Linked DNA regions of Homo sapiens: region 2 is linked to region 1. The links come from fine-mapping of genetic effects on plasma protein levels. A gene starts in region 1. The other region holds a variant in brackets. All regions are shown on one strand. Distances are from middle to middle.

Region 1 (9,059 bases):
TGTAGGGCAGCCATGCAAGACAATTCTTTAACGGTGGAGGAAGAAACTGAAAATATTAGAATTTTCATTTCCATTTATTTTAGTTCGTCCTTCCTTAAGCTCCATTTTGTGTGTGTACAATGTTACTTTACAGATAACATATTATATATGCATATAATGCACGTTATGTGTATTATATGCACATGTGGCCATATATAATGTATACAACGTATCAGTTCATGTATATAATGTATTATATACATAACAGAAGCATAATCTGAAACATTTTACTGATAGGGATACATGAATGAAAGTTTGGACACCAGTGGTGTGGACACATAGTGGCAGGAAAAAATAGCCAGAACATAAAAATATATATATTTCCTTGAAGAAATGGAATCAGAAATGAGAGGTGAAGGAATGGGAATGGAGAATGTAAACAAGAGGAGGAGTTAAACAGTCTAGGAAAGGAAGGGAAGATGAGTAATATGAGAGAACCCTGGGAGGTAATGGGGGGGGACACTCAAGTAAGTAAACATGATATATTTATGGGTAAAAACTATAGTGATGTTTACTATTATGATTTGATGAAAGGAAATGACTCAAGTGTCTAGGGTGGATCCTGTTCCTGCCTGATGGGCAAGCAAGCAAGTGAAAGACAACCGACCACCAGACACCTTAAAATAGATACTGTGTTGTCAGGTTACAATGGAGCCAACAGAACAGACTGGAAAAACAGGAGCTGTTTATGGCTATCTAATACAGGCTTAACACCAGTTGGAGCCCAAGTTTCTATATGCTAATTTGGCTTGGGAAGGAAGTAAATGCCGAAACATTGACATAATGAACAAGAAATAATTTGGAGTTAGCCTATGTTCAATTACTAAGGTATTCCTAACTTTACCAACTGGCAGAGGGCAATGTCTGGCTGACCACACAATAAATCGTCTTTTATGATGGCTGTAACAAGAAATTTAAGTCAATTAAAGGGGGTGTCAGGTATCCCTTTGACTTAAATTTCTTGTTTCAGCCATCACAAAAAGTGCAGGAATGGAAACAACCTCAACCTCTGTCTTTTCCCAAGCCCTAACAACAAAATCAATTTACATTTTAATTTCTTATTTTCCCTACCAGCCGGTGATCATAACCAGGGTAATATAACAGCTAGAGGAAAAAACAATTGAAAAAGCCACTATCGGGCCGGGTGCGGTGGCTCACAGCACTTTGGAAGGCCGAGGCGGGCAGACCACGAGGTCAGGAGATCGAGACCATCCTGGCTAACATGGTGAAACCCCTTCTCTACTAAAAATACAAAAAATGAGTCGGGCGCGGTGGTGGGCGCCTGTAGTCCCAGCTACTCGGGAGGCTGAGGCAGGAGAATGGCACGAACCCGGGAGGTGGAGCTTGCAGTAAGCCGAGATCGCGCCACTGCACTCCAGCCTAGGCGACAGAGACTCCGTCTCGAAAAAAAAAAAAGAAAAGAAAAGAAAAGAAAAAGCCACTATCAAAAATTGAAGAGTTGTCCGGGAACGGTGGCTCACACCTGTAATCGCAGCATTTTGGGAGGCCGAGGCGGGCAGATCACTAGAGGTCAGGAGTTTGAAATCAGCCTGGTCAACATGGTGAAACCCCGTCTCTACTAAAAAAAAATTACAAAAATTAGCCAGGCGTGGTGGCGCGCGCCCGTAGTCCCAGTTACTCAGGAGGCTGAGGCAGGAGAATCGCTTGAACCCGGGAGACTGGGGTTGCAGTGAGTCGAGAACGCACCACTGCACTCCAGCATGGGCGACAGAGCAAGACTCCGTCTCAAAAACAAAAACAAAAAAAGAAAAAAAATTGAAGAGTTTATTTTCTCTATTTAAACAGTCCTTTCCTAGTTCTCCACATGAGGCATTCACTGACAGAACTGGTTCCTGAGCTTTTGTGGATTAACTTTTTAAATTCTTTCTGAACAGCTTTATGCCAAGGTTCTAAAGTTCACATTGTGTAAAGGAATCATACTTCTGAACAAAGTATTGACACGTGTTTACCATAAGACAGCAGAACAAGCTGCAGTTGGGCAATCGTTTTGTAAACTATTTCATAACTGCAGTAGAAAATCAAGATTTACTTGATGGAGACTTGGGAGACCTCTATAATTTTCTTAATGTTTAGACTATTTCCTCCAGGCTAAATTTATTAAGTCATGATCTAAGTGTTTTAGTGTAAAGTTTACAGCGTTAGTGTCACCGATTCTGTTTGATAAAGACTAGGGGCAGCCCCAAAGCATTTTGAGAATTACTTTGCTTAGTTAAAATATGAGAGGCTGAACTTCTTTCCAGCAAGCTGAGTAGGGAAATGAAACCACCAAACAGCACTGATACTAGGCCGTTTCCAAGCAAATATCCTTTTAAAGCATTGAGCTTTGAACTGACCCAAACTCTGAACTGTGACCTGAAAGAAAAAGGGCCTTCTGGCTTACTACCAGGGTAGAACCGAAACAAACAAACAGCTTGAGTTGAACCAATAGGTACTGTTTTTCAAAAGAATTTAACCAGAAACGCATGTGGTGGGTAAAGAGCATTTCCAAAGACCCCAAAATGAGGTAGTGCAAGTCTTAAACTTTTTCTTTCACCGGAAGTGCAAATCTGTGCATTTAAAGGTAAACTGCGTATATTTAAGCAGAAACCCTCTCCAGAAAAAAAAAAAAAAAAAAGCAGAGGAACATCTATCTACCACAGTGATCCAAACTGGTATTTCTGGTTTGCAGGATGTATGAATCCTAGCAAACCCAGGGCTGCTTCTGAGGTCCACAACGATATCCTACACTCGGGATTAGAAACAGGGAAGGGCCAAAGAGCCAAAGGTGGGGAGGGTTAGCGCTGCTCAACAGTCCACGCGCCCCTCACGCTGCAGTGGGTGCGTCTGCGGTCAGGTTCTCCGCTCCCTCTCCTCGTACCCCACCCCATGCTCGGAGTGTGTGAGGGCAGCTACTGATGCCAGCTCCCCAGCTCCTTTCCGGATGCGGGGGTGACCTGAGAATGGCTATCCTTGCTCCCCCCAGCCCCCAATTCTTCACCAGTAGCAAAGGGAGGGAGTGAGGCCCCGAGGCGGGGAGGGCTTAGCTCCGGGGCAGGCCCGGCTCGCTGCCCGGCGTACCTGGCTCTCGGCTGCGGGGATGCCAGACTCGAGCTCGCACAGCGCGCGGAAGTTGTGCAGCTCGAAGTCGGCGTCGACCTGGAGGGAAAAGGTCACCTCGGAGAGGTCCCTCCGCACACAGTACACGGTGAGCAGCATGGCCCGGGCCCGACCCGGCTCGGCTCGGCTCGGCCCGGCCTGGGCGCGGGGCGCAGGGGAAGAGGCGGCGGCGTGGCCTGGCTGGTGCTGCGGGAGGACGGCGCCGGCTGCTCGTTCGCTCGCTCGCTCCCTCCCTCACACACGCTCAGTGAGTCACTCCCTCCCGCCCTCACTAGCAAGCACGGCCGCCGCCACACGCCTGCGAGTCCGTCTGCCTGCCGGCCTGCCTCCCACGGCTGCCGCCAAGCGCGCCGGCCGCCCGGCGCCCCGCCCCGCCGCAACGCGGCTGCCGTAAAGCCCGCCTCGCCTTCCCCGCCTTCGCAACGCAGCGGGGGGCGGGGCCGGGAAGAGGAGGAGGAAGCCAGGAGAGGATAGGAGGGGGAGGAGTGGGAAGGGGGCGTGGAAGAGGAGAGGGAGGAAGGGCAAGAAAAGGGGAGGGAAGGAAAGGAACGCGGAGAAGGAAATCTCTGCTGACTGGTTGACTTAATGACAGAAGTCTGTGGAGGAGTCCCCGGTCTTATTTATTCACCGAACAGGCATTGATTAAGCGCCTACCATGTGTCGGGCGCTGGCGATGCAGAAATGAATAAAAGGATAAATCCTTCTCCGTAACTCTCAATCTAGTACAGGAGTTAGTAATAAAACATATTTTTCGAGGTAGAAATTGAGGCTCCGACAGAGTAATTCACTTCCTGTCTTAGTGATTTAGGATTGAAACCAAAATCATTACCCTCCCTAGTCTACAGAAGCCAGTTGGCTGTGGCCCACGCCTACCTCCCCAGCCCCTTCTTCCGAGCTCTTCCCACATTCTCTGCCCTCCCAGCCACATAGGTCAGTTCCTCCAAGGCTCCATTCCCCTGTCTTGTAAATAATTTTCTCTCTACTTGGACTGTGTCTGTTTCCTAGCCCTAGCAACTCCTACCACCTAGCGCAGTGCCTTTTTGGGCACAGCTTAGAATCTACTCAATAAATATTTGCTACTTTAATGGCCTGTTTTTAAGGCACACAGCTGATGAGTGGTAGAGGCCCAGAACTAAGGTGCGGATGAGTAAGAAAACCAAAACTGAAAGATGAACTTGTAATGGATGCCAGATTAGCATCTTTCCATTTACTCCCACTCCCCCTCCATGGTAGGGAGCCCTTTTCCATTTTAACAGGAGAGAAGGAGCAAATAAGATGGCTGTGGGTGCAGGTAAGTAGGTAGTAAGTAGGCTGTTGGTGGCAGGAAAGGGAGAATTAGCAGCTGAAGGCTTTTACAAAGAGAAATTAGAGGAGCTGGGCGCGGTGGCTCACGCCTGTAATCCCAGCACTTTGGGAGGCCAAGGCGGGCGGATCACAAGGTCAGGAGTTCGAGACCAGCTTGGCCAATATGGTGAAACCCCGTCTCTACTAAAAATACAAAAATTAGCCGGGCATGGTGGCGGACACCTATAGTCCCAGCTACTCGGGAGGCTGAGGCAGGAGGGTCACTTGAACGCGGGAGGCGGAGGTTGTAGTGAGCCGAGATCAGGTCACTGCACTCTAGCCTGGGAGACAGAGCGAGACTCTGTCTCAAAAAAAAAAAAAAAAAAGAGAAAGTAGAGGCACAGGGGAGTGAGAATGCTTATATCCCCTAGGAGCAACAGAAAGCTTGACTATCAGTGGCTTAAACAAACAAGGGTTTGTTTTCTCACAGGAGAGAAGGCCTGGAGGTAGCAACAGCACTGGTTGAGTGGCTCACTGAAATCAGGGCCAATACTTTTGTAATTGTCTTGACCTTTTCCTGAGGGTTGCAATATATGGCTGGCTGCCTCCACTGCACGCATCATTTTCCTATTCAAGGAAAAAGCTTGCCCAGAAGTCCCTGTGCACATTTTTGCTTACATCTCACTGGACAGAATTGTGTCACATAGATGCAAGAGAGGCTAGGAACGCAAGTATTTAGCTTTGCCTAAAGGACATAAATAGGGAAAAGGGGGGCTGGGAATGGGTATTAGGAAAGATGTACACAGTGCCTTCTACAGTGAATGTTTGAAATAACCATTGCAAATTGAAGCAAGTTTAGCTGAGAAATGTTCTAGGATTGCCCAGTGGTGGTATCAAGGAATCAGTTGAGGCTTGAATCATTGATTAATTGTTATATTTGGTCTAGTGGTGCTCAGGTTCCCAGGTCTGGCAGATTTTGTTCTCCAAAGATGACCATGACAGTGCCTCCCATCGTCTATGCTCTTCCTACAACATGATTGGATAACCCTCCCATTAAGAAGTGGGGTGAATGTCCCTCCCTTTGAATCATGGCTCGGCAGACTAACTCTGGCATAAGTGACATTATGTGATTTCCTTTTTTTTTTTTTTTTTTATCAAGACAGGGTCTGGCTCTGTCACCCAGGCTGGAGTGCAGTGGCACGATCATGGCTCACTGCAGCCTCAACCTCCAGGGCTCAAGTGATCCCTCCAGCTCAACCTCCCCAGCAGCTGGAACTACAGGTGTGCACCACCACACGCAGCTAATTTCTTTTTAGTAGAGATGAGATCTTGCTATGTTGCCCAGGCTTGATTTCCTTTTTATTATGATTTTACATTATTTTTAGTTAAAAAAAATAGGGATGAGTCCTTGCTATGTTGACCAGGCTAATCTCCAAATCCTGGCCTCAAGTGATCCTCCCACCTTGGCCTCACGAAGTACTGGGATTACAGATGTGAGCCATCGCACCCAGCCACTTTGTGTGATTTTTAAGGCTAGGTCTCGCCTGTGTCCACCTGGAGCCAGCAGTTCTCACCCAGCATCCAGCAATATATGCCAGACACCAATGGAGGGGACAAAGCAATGGTGGACAGGCTCAGGCTGGGGCTGCTGCTTCTGGCACTGCTCCTACTTATGCAGATTTATTCAAATCAAACTATTGTAACGTTTTCAAGTAACTCCTCCCAGGGTACCTTGTCTGCCCCAAACCCAGCTAATGCCACCACCAAGGCAGTTGGCTGTGCCCTGCAGTCAACTGCCAGTCTCCTCATGGTCTTGCTTTCTCTTCTATATTTCTACTGTTAAGAAACATCTATACTTCCGTGTCTTCTAAACCCATTCCAAATGGCATCTAGGAGTCCAATGTGGCAAGAAAAAAAGCGGGTCTTCATCAAATCTATTAATTTCACACCTTCTTTTACTGATACAGAAAAGGTTGAGAACCTGGCCAGGTGTGGTGGCTCATGCCTGTAATCCCAACACATTGAGAGGTCGAGGCAGGTGGATCACCTGAGGTCAGGAGTTTGAGACCAGCCTGGCCAACATGGTGAAACCCCGTCTCTACTAAAAGTACAGAAAAATTACCCAGATATGGTGGTGGATGCCTGTAATCCCAGCTACTTGGGAGGCTGAGGCAGGAGAATTGGTTGAACCTGGGAGGCAGAGGTTGCAGTGAGCCGAGATTGCGCCATTGCACTCCAGCCTGGGCAACAAGAGCAAAACTCTGTCTCAAAAAAAAAAAAAAAAAAAAAAAAGGCCAGGCGCGGTAGCTCACATCTGTAATCCCAGCACTTTGGGAGGCCGAGGCAGGTGGCAGGTGGATCACAAGGTCAGGAGTTCAAGACCAGCCTGACCAACATGGTGAAACCCCGTCTCTACTAAAAATATAAAAATTAGCCAGACGTGGTGGTGTGTGCCTGTAATCCCAGCTACTCAGGAGGCTGAGGCAGGAGAATGGCTTGAACATGGGAGGCAGAGGGTGCAGTGAGCCGAGATCGCGCCATTGCACTCCAGCCTGGGCGACAGAGTGAGACTCCATCTCAAAAAAAAAAAAAAAGGAAAGAAAGAAAGAAAAGGTTGAGAACCCCAAATTTAATTGCTTTGAAGAACACGTGAAGGGTTTGACTAGATGATGGATGCCAATATTAAATCTGCTTAAATGTCATGTACAAGATGAAGAGAGGCAACATCCAAAATTGAAGACATTATTTCTTGAATGTGGCTTAAGAAATGTGGACAGTTAAAACTACCTTGAAAATAAGAATAGTAGATCCTGAGACAAAACTTGGGTAATAAAAAAAAAATAATAATAAATAATAGATTTTATCTTGTTTAGAAATAAAGATGTAATATGGAGTGGAGATTCAGTTTTCATTTGGTTCATTAAGTCTATACGGCAGTAAAACCAGTAAAATAAAAGATTTCCATTGGCAGGGGTGGGGGTGGCTCATACCTGTAATCCTAGCACTTTGGGAGGCCACAGCAGGAGGATCGATTGAGCCCAGGAGTTTGAAATCACCCTGGGCAACAGGGTGAGACCCCATCTCTACAAAAAAAAATTTATTTTAATTTAATTAATTTATTTATTTATTGAGATGGAGTCTTGTTCTGTTGCCCAGGCTGGAGTGCAGTGGTGCGAGCTCAGCTCACTGCAACCTCCACTTCCCTGGCTCGTGATTCTCCTGCCTGAGCCTCCCAAGTTGCTGGGATTACAGGCCTGCACCACCATGCCCCGCTAATTTTTATTTTTTGTTTTTCCTTTCTGAGACACAGTCTCGCTCTGCCATCCAGGCTGGAGTGCAGTGGTGCGATCTCAGCTCACTGCAACCTCTGCCTCGCAGGTTCAAGTGATTCTTGTGCCTCAGCCTCCTGAGTAGCTGGGATTACAGGCACCCACCACCATACCTGGCTAATTTTTGTATTTTTAGTGGAGACAGGGTTTCACCATGTAGGCCAGGCGGGTCGCAAACTCCTGACCTCAGGTGATCTACCCACTGGGCCCCCCAAAGTGCTGGGATTACGGGCATGAGCCACTGCACCTGGCCATAATCTCCTTTTTTTTTTTTGAGGCAGCGTTTCACTCTTGTCCCCCAGGCTGGAGTGCCATGGCACGATCCCAGCTCACTGCAATCTCCACCTCCCGGGTTCAAGCCATTCTCCTTCTTTAGCCTCCTGAGTAGCTGGGACTACAGGAGCATGCCACCATGCCCAGCTAATATTTGTATTTTTAGTAGAGATGGGGTTTCACCATGTTGGCCAGGCTGGTCTCAAACTCCTGACCTCAGGCGATCCAGCTCTCTCGTCCTCCCAAAGTGCTGGGATTACAGGTGTGAGCCACCGTGTCTGGCCCACAAATTTAAAAAAAGAGGTGGGCATGGTGTCACACACTTGTGGTCACAGCTACCCAAGAGACTGAGGTAGGATGATCACTTCAGCCCTGGAGGTCAAGGCTGCAGTAAGCCATTATCATGGCACTCCAGCCTGGGTGACAGAGCAAGATCCTGTCTTAAAGTTTAAAAAAGCTTCCATCGGCTGGGTGCAGTGGCTCACACCTGTAATCCCAGCACTTTGGGAGACCAAGGCGGGTGGATCACAAGGTCAGGAGTTCAAGACCAGCCTGGCCAAGATGGTGAAACCCCATCTCTACTAAAAATACAAAAAATTAGCTGGGCACGGTGGCAAGTGTCTGTAATTACAGCTACTCGGGAGGCTGAGGCAGGAGAATCGTGTGAACTCGGAGGGTGGAGGCTGCAGTGAGCTGAGACCGCACCACTGCACTCCAGCCTGGAAGACAGAGTGAGACTCCGTCTCAAAAAAAAAAAAAAAAGCTTCCATCATTCTATAAATCCTCAATGTATTATTTCAGCAGTACTAATTTAATGCCAATATATTAAGTTTTACATTGTTAGGCTATCACTGTTCTTTTGGTAACTGAATTCTTTTTCCTCTGAGGATTTGGATTTGACATTGCATTTGACCTTTTATTTAGTAATTGACATGTGCCAGGGCAATGATAGACTGCAATCTACCCCCAAGTCCAAGCATCATCAATAACTCTTGTTTATCCTTAGAGAGTCAAATG
Region 2 (9,059 bases), 51 kb before region 1:
TCTTTTTAAAAATAAAGATGCAGCGAATTCCCCTTTCTCTGTGCCAAGGACCACTAATTCTTTCCACTAATAACTAATGTCTCACAATTCCTACTATAATTGTACTGTAAATAAGAGCTCTGTGAAGTACTAGAAATCTCATTTCAAATGGAACTGAATATCAAAAGATTGAGATCTGAATGACAGAATAATTATTTCTTACCTCCAACTAGTAATAGCCTTTGTTCTCATAATTCTTTTTAGACAGGTGAGAATAGCAGAACAAGGTGAGATTTGTCTAAGCTACTCCCTGTTTAAACTACCTTGTCTGTGTACATAGAAATCCTCTCAAATAAAGGCCCCATGGCACAAATCTATACACAAAGTAATGACTCTACACTGGTTAACACCCTAGGGTATCTCTAAGAGTCTGAAAATGGTTAATTTTTAATCACTTAAAGCACAGACACATCATTTAGAAAGCTTTAGGATAGGCTGGGTGTGGTGGCTCATGCCTGTAATACCAGCACTTTGGGAGGCTGAGGCGGGTGGATCATGAGGTCAGGAGTTCGAGACCAGCCTGGCCAATATGGTGAAACCTTGTCTCTACTAAAAATACGAAAATTAGTTGGGTGTGGTGGCGCGTGCCTGTAGTCCTAGCTGCTTGGGAGGCTGAGGCAGGAGAATCGCTTGAACTCGGGAGACTGAGGTTGCAGCGAGCCAAGATCATGTCACTGCACTCCAGCCTGGGTGACAGAGCAAGACTCCGTCTCAAAAAAAAAAAAAAAATTTCCTTTTAGATCCCAGATAAGAGCTAAGTTTGAAACAGGCTTTGAATACTAAGGCCCAGTAAGACTCAGGCCTGCAGCAAAAATCATCTATTCGGGTTTTCCCATTCAAATATACTTCAGATGAAGTCAAGGCAGGTGTCACTGAGAACGAACTAGAAGTGAGAAGCAAAATTAATCAGACCTGAAAACTGTGTAGAGGCAAGAATTGCTAGTGTGGTTACTGGCATGCAGAAATGGCTGCAAGTGAATAATCAGAAGTCTACCAAGTAAATTGTTTTCCCAAATTAACCACACACTCAGGTTTTAAAAGCCACTGACTCTTTTCCAAGGCTTTAGACAACCCTCGGATCCCCAGGCTTGCACCAAGCAGTAAGCTAGCTAAGAAGGCCACGCCAACTCCCAAGAGCAGACTCAATTCAGGTGGGGCTATGGACAATGGACAAGGGACTTCCTTCAAACTAGGCAATCAGAATTTTTAATAAACTTCTTCACAATGTCTGTTCAGCACGATTTTTTTTTGTTTTTGTTTTTGAGATGGAGTCTCACTCTGTCACCAGGCTGGAGTGCAGTGGCACAATCTCGGCTCACTGCAACCTCTGACTCCCGGGTTCAAGCAATTCTGCCTCAGCCTCCCAAGTAGCTGGAATTACAGGCACGCTCCACCATGCCCAGCTAGTTTTTGTATTTTTAGTAGAGACGGGGTTTTGCCATGTTGGCCAGGATGGTCTTATCTCCTGACCTCATGATACGTCCATCTCGGCCTCCCAAAGTGCTGGAATTATAGGCGTGAGCCACCACACTCAGCCTGTTCAGCATGATTTTCTAATTGTTGGGGCCAGTGACACCTCCATTTCCCATTTCCTTTTCCAATTGAGATCTGCTACTACAGTTATTCTATCCCAGCTCTATCACTGTCTATCGGGTAGAAACAGATAACATTTCCAAGTTCAGAGTTTGCCAGACCTTAAGGGGCCACAATCAAGACCTGAAAGACGTGGCATCAGGGAACTCTGGACGTTGAGGTCAATGGATTGCCTGGGGTGGGATTTGGGGCCATCTCCTTTGGTGAAAAGGTATGTGTTGTCTCTGTCTGTGTAAGTCAACATTGGAGGACTGCTTAGCCAACCAACTAGCTGTACCCCTCATCAGCCTGAACATCTATTTCACAGCCCCGCTTGCTTCTGGCATGGTCATGTGACTGAGTTCCAGCCAGTGAATGTGGGCAGAAAAGTCATGCACACCACTTCCAGGCCTGGTACATAACACCCCTTTCCCTGGTGTGCCAGCTGGATGCTGACGTCCAAGGCAATCTTGGAACCCACATGTTGAAAAAGACAGAATCCTGGTAGCCTGGAACCTACATGGGGCAAAGCCCTTCCCCCACATCAGTCTGTTAGACAAAGCACTTGACTTCTGGAAATTCCATGTAGCATCCTCAAATCCCTTGAGTGACATAATGAATACCAGCTCACATCTCATGAGCACTTACTTTGTGCCAGGTATTCTAAGCACTTCATATGATTAACTCATTTAAGCCCCATAATCTCTCTGATGGTCCCCATTTAACAGGTGAGGAAACTCAAGCACAGAAAGGTTAGGTAACTTACCCAGTCATATAAACCAGTAAGTGGCAAAGCTCAAACCCAATCAGCCTAGCTCTAGAATCTAGTCTTGGCCACCATACTCCATTGCTATTATTATAATTGAGACAGGGTCTTGCTGTTGCCCAGGCTGGAGTGCAGTGGCATCTCAGCTCAATGCAACCTCCGCTTCCTGGACTCAAACAATCCTCTCACCTCAGCCTCCTGAGTAGTGGGGACCACAGGTGCATGCCACCACGCCCAGCTTTTTCATTTTTAGTAGAGATGGGAGTTTCGCCGTGGTGGCCAGGCTGGTCTTGAAGTAATCCGCCCATCTCGGCCTCCCAAAGTGCTGGGAATACAGGTGTGAGCCATCGTGCCTGGCCCAAAATGCGCATCTTTTACATCAGCAGGGAGCTGTCCTCCCGCAGTACTAATCTGGAAGTTAATGGCTTTGAGAGGCCCACTTCTTCTGGGGTTCAGGTACACGCCATAAATTACAATGTCTGGGTATAAGCTATTTAAAGGAGTAGGGAGATAGAGACAAGGACACCACCTTGTCTAACTGAAGTAACCACCTCAATTTAAAAGAAATTGATCAAACAGAAGTCTTATGATAAAAACTTTATTGTCTTAAATATCAAATGTTTTACACACCACTTTTTCTTCAGAAAGTTCCTATTTAAAAAAAGAAAAATAAAATAAAGTGTTTTGATTATTTAGGGCTGACTTACATTTCAGTATGTGACAAAAATTCAAACCCAAATGCATCTAGCTCACTCAGTTTCAGACAGGTCCTATGTTCAGCCCCTAAACGAATGGCACAATGCCACCAATTTTGGGATTCCTGAGTTTGGTTCCCTTAAGTTCTCAGAGTTTTCCCAACTCTCAAAACCAAAGCATCATGGGAGTGACAGGGCCACTGGCAAGACTTTTTGCCAGTCAGCCTAGTTCTTCTTTTAAGATGCAGTAGTCTCAAAGCTTAAAGTCAGAAAATCTTGCAATACAAGAGTAACTGCAAGAACATATAAAGAAGGAAAAGAAAGGACGGGGTTTCTAGTTGCTAAGATTTGCCAAACATGGCTACAAAACTGGTAAACAAACCTTTCTTGAGTGCAAAGTCCATTAGCCCAACTTGCCATGAAGAGATTTGAAATAAAAATGAACAAATCAATTTCTGTTGTAGATACAAAGCGAAAAAATAAAATTCAATCAATATATTGAATTTCTCTGAGTTTATCACTAGAACTATTTCAAAAGGATGATCGGGGATAGAATAGAAATCTAGTCATTCAAATGGGAAGGTCTTGGATGGGTGCCATAAACTCAGCTGTGAAGATTCAGGAAAGGAAAAATAAGTCTGGTCAGCATCAGGTAATCTCAGACAGAAGGAATCAGGAAACGAATCAGCCTGCCTCGGGAAGGAAATACAGGTCTACCATTTTTAGGCCATAGACACATTCATTCAGGGTTGTGTGTAAAACCAACTCTTGTAAACAAAATAACTTCCCATCAGAAATGCATGTTCCCAGGAAAAAAAATACTGCAGCATGCCCCCCTCCCCAAATTAGCTAATAAAAACCTTCTTGCAGAACATAAAGAAACCTAGTTCTGTATAAATTATCATAATTTTGTATTTCATGCCCCCACGACCCCAATCTTCCATAGTTGGCTTAACATTTTTAGGTAAAAGAAACATTCTCTAACCCCCATGCCCTTGAACCATTTTCTTGGCCGATTTCATTCCAGAAGATAGTGCCCTAAAACTTGTCAGCTCAGCTGTATCTTTTCACATTCTACAGCCTCCAGAGGGTCTAGATTACCAATCATCAATACATAACTGATAAACCTTTGAGAACATTTTCTAACTGTAAACCTCAGAAGTCACTAGTAGTTA[C/T]GATCCAGAAATTCTACCTGTATGCTTCAGCATTACAACATATATGTGGCATTTAAAATAACAGGTTAAAAAATGTCCCTTTGATGAAGCTGTCCTGTAGACAGGCCTGGTAGAGCCTCAAATACTCCTGTCAATCCTGTCCACCAATCCCAGCCATCGCTGATTACATGTTCTGCTCTAGATTCCCGTTTTCACAAGTTGCACCCAGCTGCTTTAAAATAGCACATCCTGCAGAACCCTCTGCTAAGTCGTGCTAGCCCAGATGGTCAGTATTCCGGAGCAGCCGTGCTCACAAAGGGATGTGAGGAGGATGCTGCCGCACACTCCATGTTTCTACCCTGCATGTGAGGTGGTCTGATGGATTGACTGACTGTCACTGGTGCATTTTTAGGGTCATCTTCCATTTATTTGTTGCACTTCTTTCCTGGCCATCCCCTCTCCTCCAGCATTGTAAATGGATTTCTCAATAACTGATCTCCTCAGGCATTTATACATGTTACATATTTTGTTGGTTTCTCTGATTCCATTTAAAAAAAAATTTTTTTTTTTTTTGAGACGGTGTCTCACTCTTGCCCAGGCTGGAGTACAGTGACGTGATCCCGGCTCACTGCAACCTCCGCCTCCCGGGTTCAAGCGATTCTTCTGCCTCAGTTTCCCGAGTAGCTGGGACTACAGGCATGTGCCACCATGCCCGGCTAATTTTTTATTTTTAGTAGAGGTAAGGTTTCATCATATTGGCCAGGCTGGTCTCGACCTCCTGACCTCATATCCACCCACCTTGGCCTCCCAAAGTGCTGGGATTACAGGTGTGAGCCAACGCACCTGGCCTAAAAAAATAGATTTTTAAAGAGCTGTTTTAGGCCCACAGCATCTGATTCCATTGTAAGCCTGATTTTCCCAGTCTGCTCTGAAGTGGAACCAGGTAACTCTAATATGACTTTTAAAATAAATGCATGCTAACAGGCAAAAATAGATGTTGCTTTTGAAGCTAAAATTTGTTTCACGTCTCCCTTCTAGACTGAAAGCTTCACAAGGGCAGGGTTCCAATCTGTTTTAGTTACCCCTGAATCCCCAGAGTTCACCTGTGCCTGGCACACAGGCACTCAGTATTTGATGAATGAATCAAAGTAGCAAGGAATTCTTGTTCAAAGACTCATGTTGCATAGCCTTCAAGAGTACCAATTTCCTTTCAAATATGTAAGATCTTCTTGAACTTTTCTCTCCCTTAACCAGCACAACATTGATAGTAAAACAAAGAACATAAACATCTAAAAACTGTTTTTGGTGATTCAAAAATCCCTATTATAATCATAGCACTAAAGAAATCTAATGGTCTGATGCAGGATAACTGTGAATCAACTCAGTCAAGGTGAGCCTGAGGACCACTCTGTGTGCCCTCCATCTCCAGGAGAGCTATTTTCAAACTTTCCCCTAATACTCCTCTCATTCCCCACCAAAATTTGATGCCTCTGCTATTCAGAGAAACTAAGGCACAAAAGAAAATCAAGCACATCGAAGGTTCACTCCTAAGTTCATTCAGTGAACTCCTAGTAACACCTACTGAGGAATCACTAAGGTATAAAACTTGAACCATGATTTTACATTTCCAGTTCTCAAGGACAGGCTTTGAATTTAATTTGTTGTTAAGAGTAATTAGCAATTCTAGGGAAAAAAAAGCTATTTTTATTTTCTCTACCTCCTAACACAAAAGGTAACATTCATCTTCTAGGAAGGGAAACTCTTGATAACTCTGTGTCTTTCTAGGTCAGCCACAGACTACACTAAGTCACCAACTCCAAAGGGGAAATTTGGCTTTTTGGTGAGTACTTGTGCTAGAGAACAGTAGAATGCATAATCTGGTCAGCTTCTCTTGGGACACACTGCCAGTGATAACAGGTTTGAAATATGCAGCAGTTCAATCATCCTGCTCACCCTCACCACAGGTGGCAAACAGGTAGGAAAAGGCCATTGCAACGCCCTGCAGCTTTTCTGGCCGATGATTTGCAAGGCTGTTTGCTATATATATATATATTTATATATGTGGCGGGATAAAAGCCACCATAAGTGAAGAGTACGTCTGTAGATATAAAAATTGCTTGCTTTTAAATCCATATAAAATTAACTATACTTGTCAATCACCATATGTATATGCTAGCTTACACACATATATATAGACATGAGCTTAAAAGTTAACCTAAATTTTTATGGCTTTCACCGGAGATAGAAAGCTGTAGTAAGACAACCAGCAGATTCCACATTAACTGGTTATCATAAAATCAGTGACAAAAAGCCTCATGTTCCATTTCTATGTACCCTCTTGCTAGAGACATGCTTTGGGAAAAAACACATAGGGTTGTGTCTCCCTTTAGTACATATGAAGACAGGGAGCTCTAGAAGATGTGGGCTGCAAGGCAGAAGAGTTTTAACACATGCACTCGCCATCTCTCCAGCTTCCTTTGCCAAGCAACTGGTTACCTTTTTTTTTTTTTTTTTTGAGACAGAGTTTTGCTCTTGTTGCCCAGGCTGGAGTGCAATGGCGTGATCTCTGCTCACCACAACCTCCGCCTCCCAGGTTTAAGTGATTCTCCTGCCTCAGCCTCCCGAGTAGCTGGAATTACAGGCATGGGCCACCACACCCGGCTAATTTTTGTATTTTTAGTAGAGATGGAGTTTCACCATGTTGGCCAGGCCTGTCTCAAACTCCTGCCCTCAGGTGATCCACCCGCCTTGGCCTCCCAAAGTGCTGGGATTACAGGTGTGAGCCACCGAGCCTAGCTGCAACTGGTTATCTTTATGTGTTAATAGCTGAAGCCCAAACTGTGGGATGAAGGCTATTGGCTGTCTGGAGCCCTGAACAGGTATGAGTGGAAATAATTCTTAACAGCATCAATGAGCAAAATCTATAACCTATGTAAAGCTGCTGTCTGGTTACCAAGCACATCTTTCCGCTCAAGAACCAACTTCAGGGAAATGGCACAAATTACACAGGAAAATCTTCTCTCTCTGGTGAAGAAACAGAGACCGCCCTTGTAGTTAAGTGCTGACCGCAGAACTGCCCACTACTGGTTATGGTAAAGGAGCTGTCCGGTAAAGGTGCCCATTACTGGTTATTACTGTTGGCAACCAGAATTCACAGGGATTTGATGGTATTCTTAGAAGTTAACCCATAATTTCTGCATTTCTGGAGCTCTTAATTGAATAAAAGCTGACGATGAAGGTTCACTATTGTAATGCTCCTTAATATACCCTTTGCATTCTAGAGCTGCTAAATTTAAGTCATCCAAAATATTAACAGTGTCAATAGCTTTTTTTTTTTTTTTTTGGGTGAGACAGAGTCTCACTCTGCCGCCCACACTGGAGTGCAGTGGCGTGATCTAGGCTCACTGCAACCCCCATCTCCCAGGTTCAAGCAATTCTCCTGCCTCAGTCTCCCAAGTAGCTGGGATTACAGGCGTGTGCCACCATGCCCAGCTAATTTTTTGTATTTTTAGTAGAGATGAGGTTTCACCGTGTTGGACAAACAGCTTTATTTTTATAAAAATGATGGGCAAGAAGATTTTAAAAATCAAAAGCAATTATACTTTGGCCTTTATGTAGTCCCAGCTACTCAGAAGGATGATTAAGCCCCAGAGTTTGAGTCCAGCCTGGGCAACACTGCAAGACCCCATCTCAAAAATAAAATGATGGAAGGGACAAGGATATTTGGCAAGTGGGTTAAGCTCATTCAGAGTATTCCTAACAGGAATTCATGTACAACTATAGATCTATTCCTAAAAATAAATATACATATACATACACAAAAAGCTATCCTAATGAAATCTTTTCCCGACTGATATTATATATTCCACTTGGAACTGTTTCCCAAATATCCACACTGAATTGTGTGCCAAGGTTCGTTCTGCTTACATGGAAGGCCCTTTAGGAGGGAGTCTATTGTCATCAGTAAGTTCCCCCACCCTTCCCACCCCGTGGTTCCAAAGATTTATAAGCTTAGAATACATTCCCAAACCACCACCCATAAAGCAAATACAGGGTCCCATTGCATTGCTACTAGATTTTGCATCAATCATAGCACCAACTATTTAATTACAATCACAGCTTTAAGTCAGCTGACAGAAATCCTATGAGCAGTTTCCTAGTGCATCGTACATCTTTGGTGTAGGGCAGGTGAAAGGGTCTACAATGTGCAGCTGTCTAAAAGAACATCTTAAAGACAACCTGGCTGACCTGTTGTTCTTCACGCCCTCTGAAAAGCAGTAAACTACAATTCCTTCTGTCAACCATTTCCTAACTACATAAAGGATCATGATGAATCTACGTGACACGCCATCCCATCACTAAAGTCTTATAACATACATACAAACATCATAGCAAAAGGAAAGAAAGAAGTTGGATGGGGTAGAAAAAAATGTCTCTAAGTGCCCCTAAATTAAAATTTCAAAAACTCCTGAGATATGAGCCTCCATTTTGATTGTGCTCAATGACTTAAAATTTGATGAAACAAACAAGCTTACAAAGAGTCAGACTTCAGACAAAATCATTTAACACTAAGTTGAGAAATCACTCTTTCGAAGCTTCTGTTTCAAACATGTTACAAACTATAATCTAGAATCAGAAATTATGAATCTCAAAATTCTTTTCAATAAAACCAAGACTTCAGATTCCTGCTAGGTACCCAAAAGAGCAGTTTGCCAGGAAAGAATTATCTAAAACCTATCCAGTAGGATTATTGCACAGTGGGGCCCACAGGACAATGATTTCCAAGGGCTAGTCCTTATATAAAAAAAGGCCACAATAAATACATCTATATAT

Alleles and levels. Alleles are on the strand shown, and positions count from the first base shown. The strength of an association depends on the size of the effect and on how common the allele is.
With allele C in place of T in region 2, the plasma level of the protein whose gene starts at base 3,468 in region 1 is higher (weak association).

Evidence for each region. A credible set is the group of variants that fine-mapping cannot tell apart. PIP is the posterior inclusion probability: the model's chance that the variant is causal. The UK Biobank Pharma Proteomics Project read protein levels with antibody pairs (Olink). The fine-mapping took linkage between variants from a reference panel, not from the people measured, so its PIPs are less certain.
Region 2: its variant is the best candidate, but not a certain one, in a credible set for the plasma level of the DDI2 protein (UK Biobank, PIP 0.74).

The regions. Positions count from the first base shown.
Region 1 is chr1:15,611,867-15,620,925 of GRCh38, reverse strand. DDI2 (DDI proteasomal shuttling factor 2) reads right to left here and starts at 3,468. Exons shown (of 10, transcript NM_032341.5): 1 at 3,118-3,468. The coding sequence starts at 3,255. It also overlaps the pseudogene CD24P1. RefSeq lists a silencer at 3,145-3,714.
Region 2 is chr1:15,662,945-15,672,003 of GRCh38, reverse strand. DDI2 (DDI proteasomal shuttling factor 2) reads right to left here. Exons shown (of 10, transcript NM_032341.5): 10 at 2,960-9,059. Among named protein-coding and RNA genes, the nearest start is that of RSC1A1, 7.8 kb to the right of the region's middle. RefSeq lists a silencer at 3,583-3,783. The variant C/T (reference allele first, on the strand shown) is at 4,248.